Linked DNA regions of Homo sapiens: region 2 is linked to region 1. Evidence: fine-mapped expression QTL. A gene starts in region 1. The other region holds a variant in brackets. All regions are shown on one strand. Distances are from middle to middle.

Region 1 (8,700 bases):
CAGGACAGAGGGAAAGGCCTCCAGCTCCTCCCAGCCCTGAGTGCCAGCTCATCGCCCACACCAGCCCTCCACACCCGGCCACAGGGCAGGCAGGCAGGAAGCGGGCACGTGTGACCTGCTGGCCTGTGGCTTGAGTGCAAAACCAGGTAGGGGAAACCTGTCTAGCAGTTCTTCAACCAGGTAAGCACAGAATCGCCATGGGACCCAGCAACTCCAGTCCTGGGTACAGACCCAAACAACCTGAAGCAGGGTCTCAGAGAGACATCTGCACCCTCGTGCTCACACAGCACGATTCACAATGGCCCAGAGGTGGGAGCAGCCCAGTGTCCGCCTGCAGACAAACGGGCACACGCAATGTGGTTCATCCACACAGGGTATGATCCTGTCTTCACATGCAGGGAAATCCCAGCACTCGCCACAGCATCTGTGAACCTGGAGACGTTAGACTGAGTGAAACTGGCCAGTCACAAAAGAATGAATACCAGCCGGGCATGGTGGCTCACACCTGTAATCCCAGCACTTCGGGAGGCCGAGGCAGGCGGATCACAAGGTCAGGAGATCGAGACCGTCCTGGCTAACGTGGTGAAACCCCATCTCTACTAAAAATACAGAAAACTTAGCCGGGCATGGCAGCGTGCACCTGTAGTCCCAGCTACTCGGGAGGCTGAGGCAGGAGAATGGCATGAGCCTGGGAGGCGGAGCTTGCAGTGAGCTGAGAAGGTGCCACTGCACTCCAGCCTGGGCGACAGAATGAGACTCTGCCTCAAAAAAAAAAAAAAAAAAAAATGAATACCGCATGGTTTCACTTCTACAAGGTCCCTGGAGTCATAAGATTCATAGAGACAGAAAGTTGAGGCCAGGCACGGTGGCTCATGCCTGTAATCCCAGCCATTTGGGAGGCCAAGTTGGGAGGATGACCTGAGGTCAGGAGTTCAAGACCAGCCTGGCCAACATGGCGAAACCCTGTCTCTACCAAAAATACAAAAATTAGCCGGGCGTGGTGGCAGGCGCCTGTAATCCCAGCTACTCAGGGGACTGAGGCAGGAGAATCGTTTGAACCCAGGAGGCAGAGGTTGCAGTGAGCTGAAATGGCGCCACTGCATTCCAGCCTTGGGAACAGAGCAAGACTCCGTCTCAAAAAAAAAAAAAAAAAAAAAACAAGAAAAGAACAGAAAGTAGAAGGGTGGGTGCCCCGGACTGGGGAGAGGAAATCTGGAGCCCTTGTTGAATGGGGACAGAGCTTCAGTTTGGGAAGATGAGGAGGTTCTGGAGATGATGGTGGTGGCGGTGGCACGGTGAGTGAACGTGCTCAAGGCCCTGGAACTGTGCACTCGAAACGATGAGAAGGTAAATTATTATTTTTAAAAAATCCGGCCAGGCGCGGTGGCTCATGCCTGGAATCCCAGCACTTTGGGAGGCCGAGGCGGGTGGATCACGAGGTCAGGAGACGGAGACCATCCTGGCTAACATGGTGAAACCCCATCTCTACTAAAAATACAAAAATTAGCCGGGCGTGGTGGCGGGTGCCTGTAGTCCCAGCTACTCGGGAGGCTGAGGCAGGAGAATGGTGTGAACCTGGGAGGGGGAGCTTGCAGTGAGCCGAGATCGCACCACTGCAGTCCAGCCTGGGCGACAGAGCGAGACTCCGTCTCAAAAAAAAAAAAAAATATCCAACCTAGTTGGGCCGCTGCCCTGGGGAGTGAAGGGAGTCTGCCCAGCCCCCGCCCACACTCAGCAGCCTTCTTCCCACCCTCACCCATGCCGGCCAAATTCCTGAAACTGGGAGTTGGAGGTTGCAGTGAGCAAAGATCGTGCCACTGCACTGTAGCCTGGGTGACATCGAGAGACTGTCTTAAAAAAAAAAATTAGCTGGGCATGGTGGCATGGACCTGTAGTCCCAGCTACTCAGGAGGCTGAGGTGGGAGGATTGCTTGAGCCCTGGAGGCAGAGGCTGCAGTGAGTTGAGATTGTGCCACTGCACTCCAGCCTGGGTGACAGAGCGAGACCTTAAAATAAAAAAGAACAAAAGAGCTCAGACACCCCAGTCCTTCCGGGGCATCAGATGGCCTGAGACTCAAAGAGGACAATATGTGTGTTTTTCTTTTTTTTGAGACAGGGTCTCACTCTGGCCTAGGCTGGAGTGTGATCACGACTCACTGCAGCTTCCAACTCCTGGCCTCAAGCGATCCTCCGGCCTCGGCCTCCCAAAGCACTGGGATGACAGGCGTGAGCCACCGCGCCCGGTCCCTGTCCTCTGTTGCGATTTGGCAGGCAGCTCCAAGGATGTACGGAGGCACCCCTCCCTCCCCCAAACCCCCTCCCAGGATGGAGACCCCCACCCAGGTCTTGCAGGACAGTGGGTCCAGGCACGCCCCAACTCGCCCACCTGCCAGGCCTGTGATGAGAGGCTCTCTGGGTGGCCGCCGGGCGAGGCCCCCTGTTCAAGGTCAGGGGAACCCACTATTGGGACAGGTCATGGGGAGAGTTTGGAAGGAGCTTCTGTGGGGGCCGCAGAGACCCCAAGACTGCTTCCCTCACACGGCCAGTGGGTGGGGCCTGCTCAAGTCCACCCCAGCAGCCCCAGGCCTGGCGTTCAGAGGTGGTCTGGGACTGTCTGATGTCCTGCTGTCCAGGTCTGCACCAGCCGTGAGCCAGTGCACAGGACAGTGTTCTGAGGACAGCAGAACGTGCCGGCCACCCCAGCCCCCATCAACACTGGAGTGGCTCCTTGTCACCCAGCTGGGCCACAGCAGGTACAGGAGGCCCCAGAGCAGCTGGCATCAGCAAAGAAGCATAGAGCCCTCGAGGATGTGCCATGGGGTCATGGGGGGCTAGGCAGCCCCCTGCCTCCTGACACCGCCTGTTCCACCCTGTGGCCACAGCCCTGGGGAGCGGGGACAAGCAGAGCGGCCGGGTGTGGCTCATGTCCCCTAAGACAGCTCCCTTTGCAAGGCATCAGTCTCCCTGGCTGTGAAATGAGAGTGACCCCTCACAGCATCCCCCCTCCATGGCGCTACCCGACAGAGGAGACAAGTCACTGAGGTCATGGACAGATTCTGAAAAGGCAGAGGTGCGGCCCTCTACCCGGCAGCGTGGGGCATAGGGACGGCAGAGAACAGCTCTGGGGTGGGCCAGGCTGGAAGCTTAGCAGGTGGGCCGGGCACACCTGCACCCACTGGGAGGGGAGGACCACTGAAGGACCCAGCAGGCCAAGGAAGTCCCCTCTTCCTCCTGCCAGGCTGGGAGGCCCAGAGGGTGGCTGGAGAGGGGCCCTGAGTCCAGAGAAGCTGCTCCCAGGCTGTGTGGCCAGGGAGCAGAGGTTCAGAGGCAAGCCCAGCTCCCCTCCCCGTGGGCCACAGCAACCCCAGGCCAGGCCCTTTCCCACTGGCTTTCCTGGGGAGCGTTCCTGAACAGGAGGAAATAAAGGTCTGTGGGGAGAGAGTCTGGGGTGAGCCAGCCCAGGGGGCCACCCCCACCGCACCATTGCACGGGCCCTGTGGCCGTCCTGTCTCAGGAGACCATGGAAAGGCCGTGGGTCCTGCCTGTCTTTCCAGAAAAGCCTGTCGCTATCTCCCCTCTGGGACACCCCAGCTCCTGATGTGGCCTTTCCAGCCAAGCTGCAGCTGGACAGCAGCCACCACGACCTGGGGCTGGCAGAGACCCCTCCATCCCAGAGGGAATCAGGGACACCCCTTTTTCCGGGGTGTCCAGAGGCTGCATATTGAACCAGGGCCTTGGAGGCAAATGCAAGGTCTTCCCCCGCTCCCTCCCTGGGGGCCTCAGTCACCGCCGGTGAGTTTAGGTTTGTTCCGAGGGGCTTAGACTATTGGCCCCCAGATTCCTGGTGTGCCTGGGGTGGCGGGACTGCTCCGGCGGGGCCCTCTCTCCACAGCGCAGCCGGCCTGGGGCTGACAGCTCCCGAGCAGGGCAGGGCTGGTCTGGGCACTGGGCCCCGTTCACAGCCAATGACAGGACCAGTGGCCTGGAAGGGAGGGACTCCGCGCCTTTGGACTCCAGTGCCTTGAAATCCCACAGACCTGGGAACCGAGTCAGGGATGCCCGGCCGGGAGAACGAACGGGCGGGCGGCGGGTGGACCAGGACCTGCGTCCGGCCCCACCTCTCCCAGGCCTCACCTGTCCTGGCGCCCGCCCCGGAGCAGCCAGGTGCAGGGAGCCGGGGGCAGGGGCGCCGCTCACACCCAGGGACCCCCGGTGCGGGAAGGGCGTGAGGCATGACGTCACCGCGAGGTGGCCCCGGAGCCGGCGGACCCCACAGCCCAGCAGAGACCTCCGGCTGGCGGCCCGTTCCCTCCCTGCAGCCAGCCCCGATTTCCTCTTTCTGTGCGGAGCCCGAGCTTTCGCAACGCGGCGGGCGGTCCGCGGTGACCGTCAGACACGCAGCCCGGCGGGGGAGGGGAGGCGGCGGCAGGGGGGTTTCCGGGGGTCCTGGGGGGGGCCCCCCCGCTGCGCCCGGCCCGGGAAGACGTCCGGGTCCCCGCAGGTGCAGCCGGGCCCGGGCCCCATCCGAGCGCCGATCCGGCCCGGTGTTCAGCGCCGCCACCCCCGCGGCGTCCGCGCTCCCCCGCCCGGTCCCCGGGGCCCACCCAGGACCCGCCCGGCACCCCGCGCCCACCCCGGACCCACCCGGCCCCGCGCCCACCCGGCCCACACCTACCCGGGGCGCCGCAGTCCGCGCAGCGCGCGTTCCCCGGCCGCTGCAGCAGCTCCAGGACCGCCCTGCGCCGCTCCTTGGCCATGGCCGCGATGCGCCCGCGATGCCGATGCCGGGGCCGGGGCCGGGAGCGTCAGCCCGGCTCGCTAGGGCCCCGCGCAGGCCGCCCGCCGCCGCCGCCCCTGCGCCATCCCGGGCGGCCTCAGCCCGCGCGCCGGTTCCGCATTCCCGCCGCCCTCTGGGCTCCGCCGCCGCCGCTCGTGTCTCCGCCGCGGTCGCTGAGCGAGTGCCGGCGCGGGGCCCGGGGCGCACGCTGCGCTCTGGCCGGCAAGGCCCGCGGGCGGCCCCCAGCGGTGCAGGCGAGCGTGTGGCCTCCTCCCTCGGCCGCTCCGGCGCCCCCAGCCCGCGCGCCCCGGGGACCCGCTGGGAAATCGCCCGCCGCCCGCCCCCCATCCGCGCGCAGCGTCCCACCTGCCTGGGCGCGAGGCCGCCCCAAAACCTGGCCGGCCTGGGTGGGACCCTCGTGCCGCCGCGCGCGGTGGGACGGAGCCTGCACACCTACTGTGGGGGGCGCAGAGGGCACCTGCCGAGCCCCCCAAGACCATGGGCATGGGGGTGCTCGTGGAAGGCAGGTGTGCGTGTCCTGTGCTACGGACCAGGACCAGGGCGCTCACACCATCCCTGCCTGGGAGGGACGGCCAGCAGGTGACAAACGCCAGCGTCCCAGGGCACTGAGGCCACACAGGGCCCAGACGGAGCCTCCCCCTGAGACCCACCCAGCCGCCCACCACCCACAGATGGGACCCTCTGGGCACCCCTCCCACTCAGGCAGGCTGAGGGGCCCCGCCGGGACTTCACATGGGGGCTGACAGGTAACAAAAAACCTGGTTTTGATGTCACCTCTTCCCAGACTCGCGTGCCCTTCCTCTGCACACCCCAGCATCTTTTCAAATTCTTTCCATTTTCTTCTTGCAGGGTTAATGCAGTACACCCGGCTGAAAACAAACTGGAACATACCAGACTGAAAAAGGAAAGCCTCTCCCCACTGCCTTCCAGGCAACCACTGTTAACAAATTCCTCAGCACCTTCCAGAACGAACGTCTGAGGCCTGTAGCCTTTCATTTATTTATTCATTTATCGAGACAGGGTTTTGGCTAACGGCTGTAATCCCAGCACTTTGGGAGACCCTGGCGGGTGGATCACTTGAGCTCAGGAGTTTGAGACCAGCCTGGGCAACATGGTGAAACCCCGTCTCTACTAAATACAAAGAAATTAGCCAGGCGTGGTGGCGCATGCCTGCAATCCCAGCTACTTGGGAGGCTGAGGCAGGAGAATCGCATGAACCTGGCAGGCAGAGGTTGCAGCGAGCCGAGATTGCGCCATTGCACTCCAGCCTGGGCAACAAGAGTGAAACTCCGTTTCAAAAAAAAAAAAAAAAAAAAAAAACCAAACAAACAAACTCAAAAAAAGTTCAACTGAACCATGACTTGTTCACCCAGTCACTGGCATAGGGGCATTTAGAGCGTTTTGAATGCATCAGAATCATGGTCTACACAACCTCATCTTTGCAAGAGTTTTGTGTGGATTTGCTCTCAAAGTGGCATCGCTGGGGCAATGGTATGGGATGTGGAATGGCCTCCACTGAGGCTGCACTGACCAGAGTGCCACCAAAGGCACCTGTCCCCCTGCTCCAGCTGACGTGGAATCATGGAGCTGCTTAAGCTCTGTCTACCTGAAGCAGAACGCGGCAGCCCGTTTTGGTCTGTGTCTCTGGGATCTGTGCCCTGTGGCATCACGTGCTCTTTCCCTGTAACCGTTCACATGGGTCTTTCTCCTCCCTCAGACGGGAGGCTTTGGGGTGGGGACAGGTGGCATTTTCATCTCTGGGTCCCTGTGCCAGGCTCGGAATCCACCACACAGCATGAGCTTGGAGAATGTCGCCTAATAAAGACAGACGAACATTAATAGCAGCAGCTCAGCACTAGGTATTAGGAGAAATAGCCTGACTTGTATTTTCTATTTTCTTTTCTTTTCTTTTCTTTTTTTCCTTTTTTTTTTTTTTTTTTTGAGACAGGGTTTTGGTCTATCGCCCAGGCTGGAGTGCAGTGGCACGATCTTAGCTCACTGCAACCTCTGCTTCCTGGGGTCAGGTGATTCTCCTGCCTCAGCCTCCTGAGTAGCTGGGACCACAAATGGGTGCCACCATGCCCAGGTATATTTTTATTTTTTGGTAGAGACAGGGTTTCACCATGTTGCCCAGGCTGGTCTCGAACACCTGACTTCACGTGATCTGCCTGCCTTAGCCTCTGAAAGTGCTGGGATTACAGGCCTGAGCCACCACGCCTGGCTTGACGTGTATTTTCTTTTTTCTTTTTTTTTTTTTTGAGACAGAGTCTTGCTCTGTCACCCAGGCTGGAGTGCAGTGGTGCGATCTCGGCTCACTGCAAGCTCCGCCTCCCGGGTTCACACCATTCTCCTGCCTCAGCCTCCCCAGCAGCTGGGACACAGGTGCATGCCACCACGCCCGGCTAATTTTTTTGTATTTTTAGTAGAGACGGGGTTTCACCGTGTTAGCCAGGATGCTCTCGATCTCCTGACCTCGTGATCCGCCTGCCTAGGCCTCCCAAAGTGCTGGTATTATGGGCGTGAGCCACCGCGACCGGCCGACATGTATTTTCTTATTAAAGCCCCATTTTCAGCTGGGAAGACTGAGGCACGGGGAGGTTCGATCCCTTGCTGGAGGCCACACACCTCAGGACTGGAATATACATAAAACAATATAACAAAGCAACACACCCTAACATAGCCGTTACCCAAGGTCCCCAAAGACGGGGAGGCCATCATACAAGGCATAGAAAAGGCAGCAGGGAGGCCTCAGGGGAGCCGGTGCCCAACAGGCCAGAGCTTCTGGCACAAGCCAAGGCCATCTACTGCCTGCTGTTCCGGGGCCTCCTCCGTGGGGCAGCTCCAGCAGGCGAGTGTCTTGCCTTCTCTGTCCTTCCATCCCGCTAAGGGAACTGTGGCATTGCTCGGGGGGCAGGAGGGCGTGAGGATGAGACAGAGGTGGGTGAACCCCTCAGATCTAAGAGATGTCGGGGCTGAGGGGGATTCTTCCAAAGAGGAGGCTGCTCGGCCGAGATCCGCAAGTACCTGCCTGGACCCGAGAGCACAGCCGTCCTGAAATCCTGCTGCCCTGACTGGCTGTGGTCAGGGCTGGGCGGGGCAGTAGGGGAGCCCAGGACTCAGGAAGAATCCGGAAGGTAACAGCATAGCTCAGGGTGGGCCAGACCCAGACCAGTGCTGGTCAAAGGCTGTTCCGGCCAGCAGCGGCTGGCGAGGGGCCTGGACAGGCGGCGTGCCTGCTCCTGCTCATGCCCAGTGGCCTACAAGCTCTGCTGAGCCTCCTGCCCCTTGTCACTGACCCGCACGGCTGCACCAGGGACCCTGACACTCATTCCTCAAGCATCTCCCTAGTCCAGAGCCAGAGGCAGCCGCCTCCTGTGACCACTCGGCCACACAGCAGACCCTGGGCAGGGGGCTCCCGAGAGCAGGGCGAGCTCCTCCAGCGTCGCCTGAGCACGGGGCCTGCGCGTGGTAGGCCAGCAGGCGACTTTGATTGGAAGCTGGCTCCTCCCAGGCCTGCAGCTGCGGGGTGAGCCTCTCAGCACAGGCAGAAGGGGGCTCTCCCCAGGGAAGGGGCAAATGGACTGAGGCCGGGCTGGGCCCTGCTCTGCGACCATCTTGCCCAACAGTCAGCCGAGCTTGCTCAACCAGGAGCTGCCTCAGGGGAGGGGAGGTTGTGGAGGTTCACTTCCCTCTCCACCCCGCACAGGGGCCGGGGCTAATTCAGTCAAATTATCTGCGCTTGGACAGCGTCTGGCACGATGGCCGTGAGCTCAGTAGGCCGCCCTGCAGGCCAAGCAGGGGTCTTCAACATCCAGGCTCAGCGCAGGGGTGGGCAGCTCCTGGCTCTACCTGCCTCAGCTGTGGGGATGGGGGTCGTGATGTTGGGCCCCCATGTGGCCGGC
Region 2 (8,700 bases), 43 kb before region 1:
GAGAAAGGGAAAGGAGAAAGGAGAAAGGAGAAAGGAGAAAGGGAAAGGAGAAAGGAGAAAGGGAAAGGAGAAAGGGAGAAAGAGAAAGGAGAAAGGAGAAAGGAGAAAGGAGAAAGGGAAAGGAGAAAGGGAGAAAGGGAAAGGAGAAAGGAGAAAGGAGAAAGGAGAAAGGGAAAGGAGAAAGGAGAAAGGAGAAAGGAGAAAGGGAAAGGAGAAAGGGAGAAAGGAGAAAGGAGAAAGGGAAAGGAGAAAGGAGAAGGGAGAAAGGGAGAAAGGGAAAGGAGAAAGGGAAAGGAGAAAGGAGAAAGGAGAAGGGAGAAAGGGAGAAAGGGAAAGGAGAAAGGAGAAAGGAGAAAGGGAAAGGAGAAAGGGGGCGGGAAAGGGGACATGGACAGGGGACACGGGGGACATGGACATGGGGGACGGGACATCGGGGACGGGACATGGGGGACAGAGTACATAGGGGACATGGACAGGGGACATGGGGGACAGGGGACACGGGGGACGGGACAGGGGACATGGGGGGACATGGGTCAGATGGTGATGGTGGATGGTTGGTGAGGGGATATGACAGTGGACCAGCGCTGTTGGCTGCAACCCTGGCCCAAGCCAGCCTGAGGACGGCCTGGATGAGCGGGACTCCAGCTGTCCTTTACTGGCCCCCAGGGACCCTCCCCATCCTGAGTGGACATGGCCAGAGCCACCATGGGCAGAGGCAGGGCTGGGTCCAACCTCGTGCTGCCCGGGAGGACCAGGCTGGCCTCCTCCCTCCTCCCTCAGCCGTCCGCAGCTGCTGGGTCCAGGTGGTGCCATCCCCTCTTTTTTCAGGAAAGCTCATCTGAGGGGAGTCCAGCTCAAGCCCTCATCTCCGCCTGTGGCCTCACGCACACCACACACAGCCACAGAAAAGTAGCCCGGGCATCCCCCTGGGAGCCTAAGCACCTGGACACGCCACCTTCTATGGCAAAACACACCGTGCACGGGTGGTTAGGACGCTGCTGTGGCAGACGATCACAGGGGAGGGAGGCAGAGATATGAGGACAGGAGGGAAGGGGACGTGGCCGTGGAAACTGAGGCCAGAGGGGGCCCCAGAGCCCAGGAGCACCAGGGAGAGGCCAGAGGACCCGTCCTGAGCCCAGAACCAGCTCTGCCCACTCCGAGTCTCGGGCCCGTGGGATCGTCCTGGAGCTCTGCCAGAGCTGTGGGAGAACAAACACGTGTGGCTTCACGTCACTGAGCTGCGGTCAGTGACCCACGTGTGGCCACTCAGAGGGGCGTTCCCATCCCCCCCAGGCCCCGCTCCCACTTCTGCTCCCTGTCCGTGGTTCCTATCGTTGCCCGTCCTTTCTCCTGCTCTGGAACTCTGTGTCCTGCGGACTCAGATGCAGCTTCTTCTATGGCCCTGGCTGTCCCGCCCCAACAGCATGTGGCTTGCAGCATCCGTGTCCTGGGCTCCGTCTGCCAGGCCTTGGGTCGCGTGCAGGTCCCGCCGTTGGCAGCAGCTGCGTGGCCAGGGTCGAGCAGGTCCTCAGTGGGTGCAGACTCTCCTGGGATCACGGGGCCGTCTGCCAAGCATCCCCAGTGGGCGCCGCCTCTCCGGAGGTCGCGGGGCCGTCTGCCGAGGAGCCGTCTGCCGAGCATCCGTGGCCCCTCCAGGGGTCGCGGGGCCGTCTGCCCAGTGTCCGTGGGCCCTTCCCGGGGTCGTGGGGCCGTCTGCTGAGCATCCGTGGGCCTGTCCGTGACCCCTCAGTGACTTCAGAGAGCACTTGCTTGGGGACAGCATCCCATCCTGCTGGCCATGTGGCCTGGGAGCCCCGGTCATCTGAGGGCAGGGGCTGCTGACCTACGCCACAGGGACGCGAGGGGGCTGTGGGCTCCAGGCGGGGCTAAACAGCCCCCTGCAGCAGCCAACAGGCCAGACAGAGGCTCAGATTGCAGACACCGCCCATCAGCCCTGACCACCAAAGCCCCCTGCTCCCCAGCATCCCCTCCCCAGCTCAGACAGCCCCATCCCGACACCAGAGACCAGGGGCTATTTTCTCTGCTGAGATGCAAGCCATAAAACGCCTGGCGTTGGGGAGGGGACAGCTGGTGCCCTCGGGGAGGGGGCCCTGGGCTGTCTTGGATGGTGCCAGACGGGGCCTGCTCCCCTCACTGCCCGGAGCTCCCCGCTCCCCAAGCCTCTACAAGGCTGCTGCCCCAGCCCCGTGCGCACAGCAGCAGCCAGGAGCCCCCTTCCCATGGAAGAACCCCCTTCTCCTGCTTCTCACTGTGAGAGCGAGGCCACCAGTGTCCCTCAGACCCAAGTAAGGCCTGCTCAGAACGCCTGTTGACTCAGTGAGCCCCTGCCCAGGCACAGCTGGGTGTCCCCACGGCTCTGCCTCCGACATCAGGACCTCTTTGGACGCGGCGCTTCGTGGCTGAGGGTGGACGCCGAGAAGTGCCCGGGGAGGCATCGCAGCAGCGGGCCCAGCGGCGCTTCCCGGCCTCTGCCGCTCACGGCCTTGTGTGCACCCCGGGGAGCCTCCAAGGCGTGCGTGTCCGTGTCACCAATGCAGACGACAAGTTTGGGCCACCTCGCCCACGGGGGTGGAGCTGGCTGGGTCCAGTGTGTCGGTTCCACAGACCCCTGCCCAGGACACAGCGGGGGCCCCTTCCAGCGACCGGGCTCCCTAGGCCACAGGGTGGGGACGCGCCCCTGCCATGCCCGCCGCGCCCAGCAGGTGACAGCAGTGCTCCGGAAGCGCGCAGGCCGCGGGGTCTGGGAGGCCACTGCCCCTCTGCACGCGCGCAGCTGCTCCGGTGTTCTCGGGGTCCAGACGCCAGCGGGAACCCCGGTCCTCCCGACAGCAGGCGCCAGCGGGAACCCCGGTCCTCCCGACAGCAGGCGCCAGCGGGAACCCCGGACCTCCCGACAGCAGGCGCCAGCGGGAACCCCGGTCCTCCCGACAGCAGGCGCCAGCGGGAACCCCGGACCTCCCGACAGCAGGCGCCAGCGGGAACCCCGGTCCTCCCGACAGCAGGCGCCAGCGGGAACCCCGGTCCTCCCGACAGCAGGCGCCAGCGGGAACCCCGGTCCTCCCGACAGCAGGCGCCAGCGGGAACCCCGGTCCTCCCGACAGCAGGCGCCAGCGGGAACCCCGGTCCTCCCGACAGCAGGCGCCAGGACGCCGCATTCCAGGGGCAATGACGACGCAGGAGTGTATTTCAGGACGGCGCTGGCCACGGTCCCGGACGCGCCCCACGCCCAGTCCAGACCTCAGGCTGAGCCTCTGCTCTCCCCATGCCTGGCCAGCCCCTTGGCCTCGCTGGGGAGGGCCAGGACCTCAGGGGCCTGCAGCCCCCAGTCGGCACCAGCAACAGCCAGTGAGACGGGGCTTCTCCCCACAGAGCAGCCCCTCACACGGCAGCGTCCTGGACAGCCGGGTGGGCTGTGGCCAGAAATGGCCATTTTCTCTTAAAGGACTCGTGAGTCCTGGGGCAGGACTCGACCAGTATTTATCAAACAGCTACCGCGTGCCGCGCCCTGCTGTGAGCTGGTCCCGCTGTGTGTCGGGTCCTATGGTGTGGGGTGGGGGGGGTTCTACTGCACACCAGGCCCTACTGTGTGCCGGTCCCACTGTGTGCCAGGTCTTGTCCCACCTGTGGGGAGCTGGGTCCAGTCCACACCCCATGCCCTGCTCAGACGCCTCTGAGGAGCCCTTCTGCCCACCGCACGGCTAAGAGCAGGAAAGACGTTCAGCATCGCCATGACCCACGAGAACGGCAAAACCAAACCAGTGTGCACACACAGGCGCCCGACTGTGGGCGGGGACGCCGGCCCTTCCACGCTGCCCGTGGGGATGTAAGGTGCCCCAGTCCCTGGAAAGCAGCCAGGCCGTTTCTTCCACCACAGTGAAGCGCGCACATCACGTGCCTCAGAGAGAAGTGAAATCCGAGGAAACAGGAACAGCCTTCACATAAAGCCCACACCCGTTTACGAGGCTTTTTTTTTTTTTTCCCCACCCAGGCTGGAGTGCAGGGGCACTATCACAGCTCACTGCAGCCTTGACCTTCCGGGCTCAAGTGATCCTCCAGCCTTGGCCTCCCGAGTAGCTGGGACCACAGATGCACGCCACCACACCCGGCTAAGTTCTGTATTTTTTTGTAGAGATGGGAGCTCACTGCGTTGCCCAGGCTGGTCTCGAACTTCTGAGCTCAGGTGACCCTCCTGCCTCTCCTCCCACCATACTGGGGTTGCAGCGTGAGCCCCACGCCTGGCCCGAGACTGCTGGGTCTTGGATTTGTCAGAGCTGGGACTGCACTCTAAATAGGATATGCAAAGTAGATGTAAATCACACCTCACGTATGTGATTTATATGCTAATTGTCTTGTAAACTGGGGCAGGGAAGCACGTGGCCCTGCTCTGAGTGACAGCTCACAGGGTGGTGGACCCTCTGGGGTGGGAACTGCATCCCCATATCTCATGGGGCCTCTGGCCTTCCACAGGGAGGGGTGCACCATGGATGGGTGGCCTCTGAGAACGGGGCCGAGGCCCTGATCACTGCACCCCGGCCGTCCCTGTGAAGGGCCTGGACCTGGCTTCCGGCCTTTGGGTCCTAGTGGCTCCTGCCCTCCCTCAGGAGGCAAACACCGGAGCCCACGG[C/G]AGAGCAGTGTCTCCTTGCTGGGTAAGGCCTTAGAGTTGAAGGCCTCCTCTGTGAGCCCGCACAGGGCTCCGTCTCTCCCTGCCTGGCCCGTCCACCCACGCTCTCCGACCCATTAATGCACCTTCTCCAGGTTGGTGCGTCTGGGGCCGGCAGAGGCTGAGAACCAGCGGGCCGTATCCTGCGGAGGGCTCCAGGTCCCAGCTTCGCCCTGCGTGGAGCTCTCTCTCCAAACAGCCAGGACAGGGAGGCTTCCCTGTTCCCAGGGGTGAGGCCAGAGGGTGGACGAGGGCTCCTGGGGTCAGCTCTCACCCTGTTCCTATTCTCATATAGCCCCCAGCATGGGGCCCGGCCCCCGACAGGCCTGGAGAGACCCCCCCACTCACACACGGGTTCACAGTTTCCACAGCGCCTTCCTGCCCAGAGTGACGTGTGGATGCCCCCATCCCCGCCAGGCTGCCCAGGCTGCAGGAGGGGCCACCCTCAGGGCCAAGTCAGCCCCAGGGTACCCCCCTCCCCAAGCCCCAAACCCTGAGGCCCCCACACAGGGGCCCCAGCGCCCAAGAACAGCGAACCCTGACTCCTGTAAGACAAACATGCCAGGAAAGGGGCGGGGATCACACGGAGGGCCAGGAAGGGGGCGGGGGTCCCACGGAGGGCCAGGAAGGGGGCGGGGGTCCCACGGAGGGCCAGGAAGGGGGCGGGGGTCCCACGGAGGGCCAGGAAGGGGGCGGGGGTCCCACGGAGGGCCAGGAAGGGGGCGGGGGTCCCACGGAGGGCCAGGAAGGGGGCGGGGGTCCCACGGAGGGCCAGGAAGGGGGCGGGGGTCCCACGGAGGGCCAGGAAGGGGGCGGGGGTCCCACGGAGGGCCAGGAAGGGGGCGGGGGACCCACGGAGGGCCAGGAGCCGACACCCACCCAGAGAGGGGCAATGGGGCAGCCCTACCACCTCTGGCCAGGCCCCAAACACCCGTCCCCCCGAGGGGCAGCCCCACAGCTCTGGCCTGGCCCCAAACACCCGTCCCCTCATGGGCCACGTAAAGCCTCGCGCTGCCTGCGAGGAACGGCTGGTGATGTTCCCAGTAGCGCCCTCGTGCCGCACACCATCGTCCCCACTATATGGACGGGGAAACCGAGGCCCCAGACCTCGTGCACAGCCCCAGCCCCCTCCTGGGCTCCGTCTGCCCTGTGACATTTACGGCAACGGTCGGCCCATCCCTGCCTGGTACCACCAGGAGGGGCCGTCCTGAACCACAGGGGAACCACAGAAGCTCCGACAGGAGCACGGGGTCCGGAGCCTAGAGCAGGAAGCCCCGCGTCTCAGCGAGACCAGGGCCTGGCCCTCAGGACAACATGAGGCATTGTCCAGGCCCCTGTGAAAGCCGCCATTGAGGCTGCGGCCCGAGGCGGGGCCAGCCCGCGGTGGGAGCAGCTGTCACCAGGGTCACCCCCAGGGGCAGGCGGGGGGCAAGTCTGGCTCAGACACAAGGATAAACCCCCACATCTGGGGGAGGGGTGCGGCGCGTCCCCACGCAGTGACCTTGGCCCAGGGAGGCGGCGCAGAGGGTGGGGGAGCCCTGCTGGCTCAGCGGGCTGAGGTTCACCTGGGGCCACAGCGACGCACCTTCCGCTACGCACCGACACCAAGGGCTTCTCCCCCGGTCCTTTGTCGTCAAAGAGCATCTTGGGGAGACACAGCGGCCACAGAGGGGCTTCCCTGCCACAGGTTACTGCAACGTGCACCTCGAGAGGTGTTTCCGCTTCCCTCACTCCTCTTGCATTTATTTTATTTTGATACGGAATCTCGCTGTTGCCCAGGCTGGAGTGCAATGGCGCGATCTCGGCTCCCTGCAACCTCCGCTTCCCAGGTTCAAGCTATTCTCCTGTCTCAGCCTCCTGAGTAGCTGGAGCTATCACGCCAGGCCTATTTATTTATGTTTTAAGACAAGGTCTCTCTGTGGCCCACACTGGAGTGCAGTGGTGCAATCACAGCTCACTGCAGTCTTGACCTCCTGGGCTCAGACCATCCTCCCACCTCAGTGTCCTGAGTAGCTGGGACCATAGGCGCCTCCATGCCCAGCTAATTATTAAACTTTGTCTTGAGACGGAGTCTCCCCACGTTGCCCAGGCTGGTGTTGAACTCCTGGCTCAAGCAACCCTCCCACCTCGGCCTCCCAGAGTGCTGCAATGACAGGCATGAGCCCCGGTGCCCGGCCTTCTTTTGTATTAACTGGAATTCGTGTGCAAAGGCTGCTGGCCTCCTCCCCTTCCTTTTTTTTTTTTTTTTTTTTGAGACGGAGTCTCGCTCTGTCGCCCAGGCTGGAGTTTAGTGGCGTGATCTCCACTCACTGCAAGCTCCACCTCCTGGGTTCACACCATTCTCCTGCCTCAGCCTCCCAAGTAGCTGGGACTACAGGCGCCCGCCACCACACCCAGCTAATTTTTTTGTATTTTTAGTAGAGACGGGGTTTCACCGTGTTAGCCAGGATGGTCTTGATCTCCTGACCTCGTGATCCGCCTGCCTCAGCCTCCCAAAGTGCTGGGATTACAGGCGTGAGGCACCGCGCCCGGTCCTCCCCTTTCTCTTTACTTGTTCCATTCTTTATGTATATGTCTATGGACTTGGGGGTGTGTACCTTGCTCCCCTGTTATAATCCCCTTATACCATCTTCCTTTTGTTGCTCAAATTACTCCCCCAGCTTTAGCCATTAAAAGCTCCTTCAGAGGCCAGGTGTGGTGGCTCACGCCTATAATCTCAGCACTTTGGGAGGCCGAGGCGGGCGGGTCACCTGAGGTCAGGAGTTCCAGACCAGCCTGGCCAACATGATGAAATCCTGTCTCTACTAAAAATATAAAAATTAGCCGGGCGTGGTGGGGGGCGCCTGTAGTCCCAGCTACTCAGGATGCTGAGGCAGGAGAATGGCGGGAACCCGGGAGGTGGACATTGCGGTGAGCTGAGACCGCACCATTGCACCGCAGCCTGGGCAACAGAGCAGGAAAAAACAAACAAACAAAAAACTCCTTCAGAAAAGCCCGGTGGTGATCCTTCCTTTTGGGTGGCCTAACAGAGGGATGGAGTGGGGCTCCGCCTTCCTCAGCCATGGTCCTGGGTGGCGTGGCCCACACACAGGACATCTGGGGCCCCCGCCCTGTGAGAACAACCCGGCCATTTCCACCCACAGCCAAGGTGCAGGCTGTGGGCACTGGGCGTGGCACAGCCTCTAGGAGTTCTTGGTTCCGGCTCATTCCAGGGCAGACCTGCAGCCACTCCTCTGTGCAGAGCGGGAGCCACCTGGCCCAGGCCTCACCTGGCCAACGTGGGGTTGTGGGTGTGGCAGGCCCTTCCCAAGCCCCGAGCTTCCCCTTCCTCCCGGGCCCTGCCGCAGGGACTTCTATATTTCCCTGTGGTCGTGAGGTGTCGCCACTGCCGTGATAAAGGGCTCTGGTGGCAAAGCCAGGGAGCAGGGCAGGAACGCCGCCGGGAATCCCCAGTGCACTCTGGGAGGGGTTGGGAGGCCCGGGAACTGCCAACTGGCGCTGGAGCCCTGTGGAGGAGGCTCTGCCCACGGGGCCGCCCCAGACAGGAGGACACGTCCTCTCCTGCTGCTGCACCCACCCAGACATGGGCTCAGGGTGGGGGCCATGGGGAGGCTCGGGGGGTCCCTGAGGTCTAACCCTGAGCACCAGATGGACACCTGCTCCCTCATCCATCCAGCAAAGGGCAGAACCTAGGGTTCCAAATAGCAGCGGGCAGCTAGGTCTGTGGGAGAGGTGCCCTGGAGCCCCTGAACACACAAGGAGACAGGCAGGGCATCTCACAGGGCCCTGGAACCCCGCCCTGCACAGCACCCAGAGACAGCAGCCTGGAGCACAGACAGTCACCGCCTGCTGGTCCCCAGGCACTTGGCCGTCTGAAGCAGCCAGGCCTTCGTGCCTACTGACCAGGCTGCAGGGGCAGGGTAGAGGGGAGGCTTCAAGGAGGGGTGAGCCCTGCCCTGAGCAGGTGGGTGTCAGTGGGCCCTGAGCACAGGGCCATACGACTCAGCACCTCTGGGTCC

What was found. PIP is the estimated chance that this variant, and not a neighbour inherited with it, causes the effect.
Region 2: its variant is fine-mapped to the expression of ADAP1 in whole blood (TOPMed, PIP above 0.99).

What each region holds. Positions count from the first base shown.
Region 1 is chr7:949,721-958,420 of GRCh38, forward strand. ADAP1 (ArfGAP with dual PH domains 1) reads right to left here and starts at 4,960. Exons shown (of 11, transcript NM_006869.4): 1 at 4,676-4,960. The coding sequence starts at 4,757. It overlaps LOC124901569 (a long non-coding RNA gene), which reads left to right and starts at 5,134. Exons shown (of 2, transcript XR_007060178.1): 1 at 5,134-5,544; 2 at 5,648-5,770. RefSeq lists enhancers at 1-480, 3,410-4,021, 5,244-5,853 and silencers at 4,147-4,356, 4,647-5,136, 5,156-5,311, 5,167-5,266, 8,508-8,567.
Region 2 is chr7:906,286-914,985 of GRCh38, forward strand. All of the region lies in intron 4 of ADAP1 (ArfGAP with dual PH domains 1), which reads right to left. Among named protein-coding and RNA genes, the nearest start is that of GET4, 34 kb to the left of the region's middle. RefSeq lists an enhancer at 1,417-2,115 and a silencer at 2,630-2,849. The variant C/G (reference allele first, on the strand shown) is at 4,646.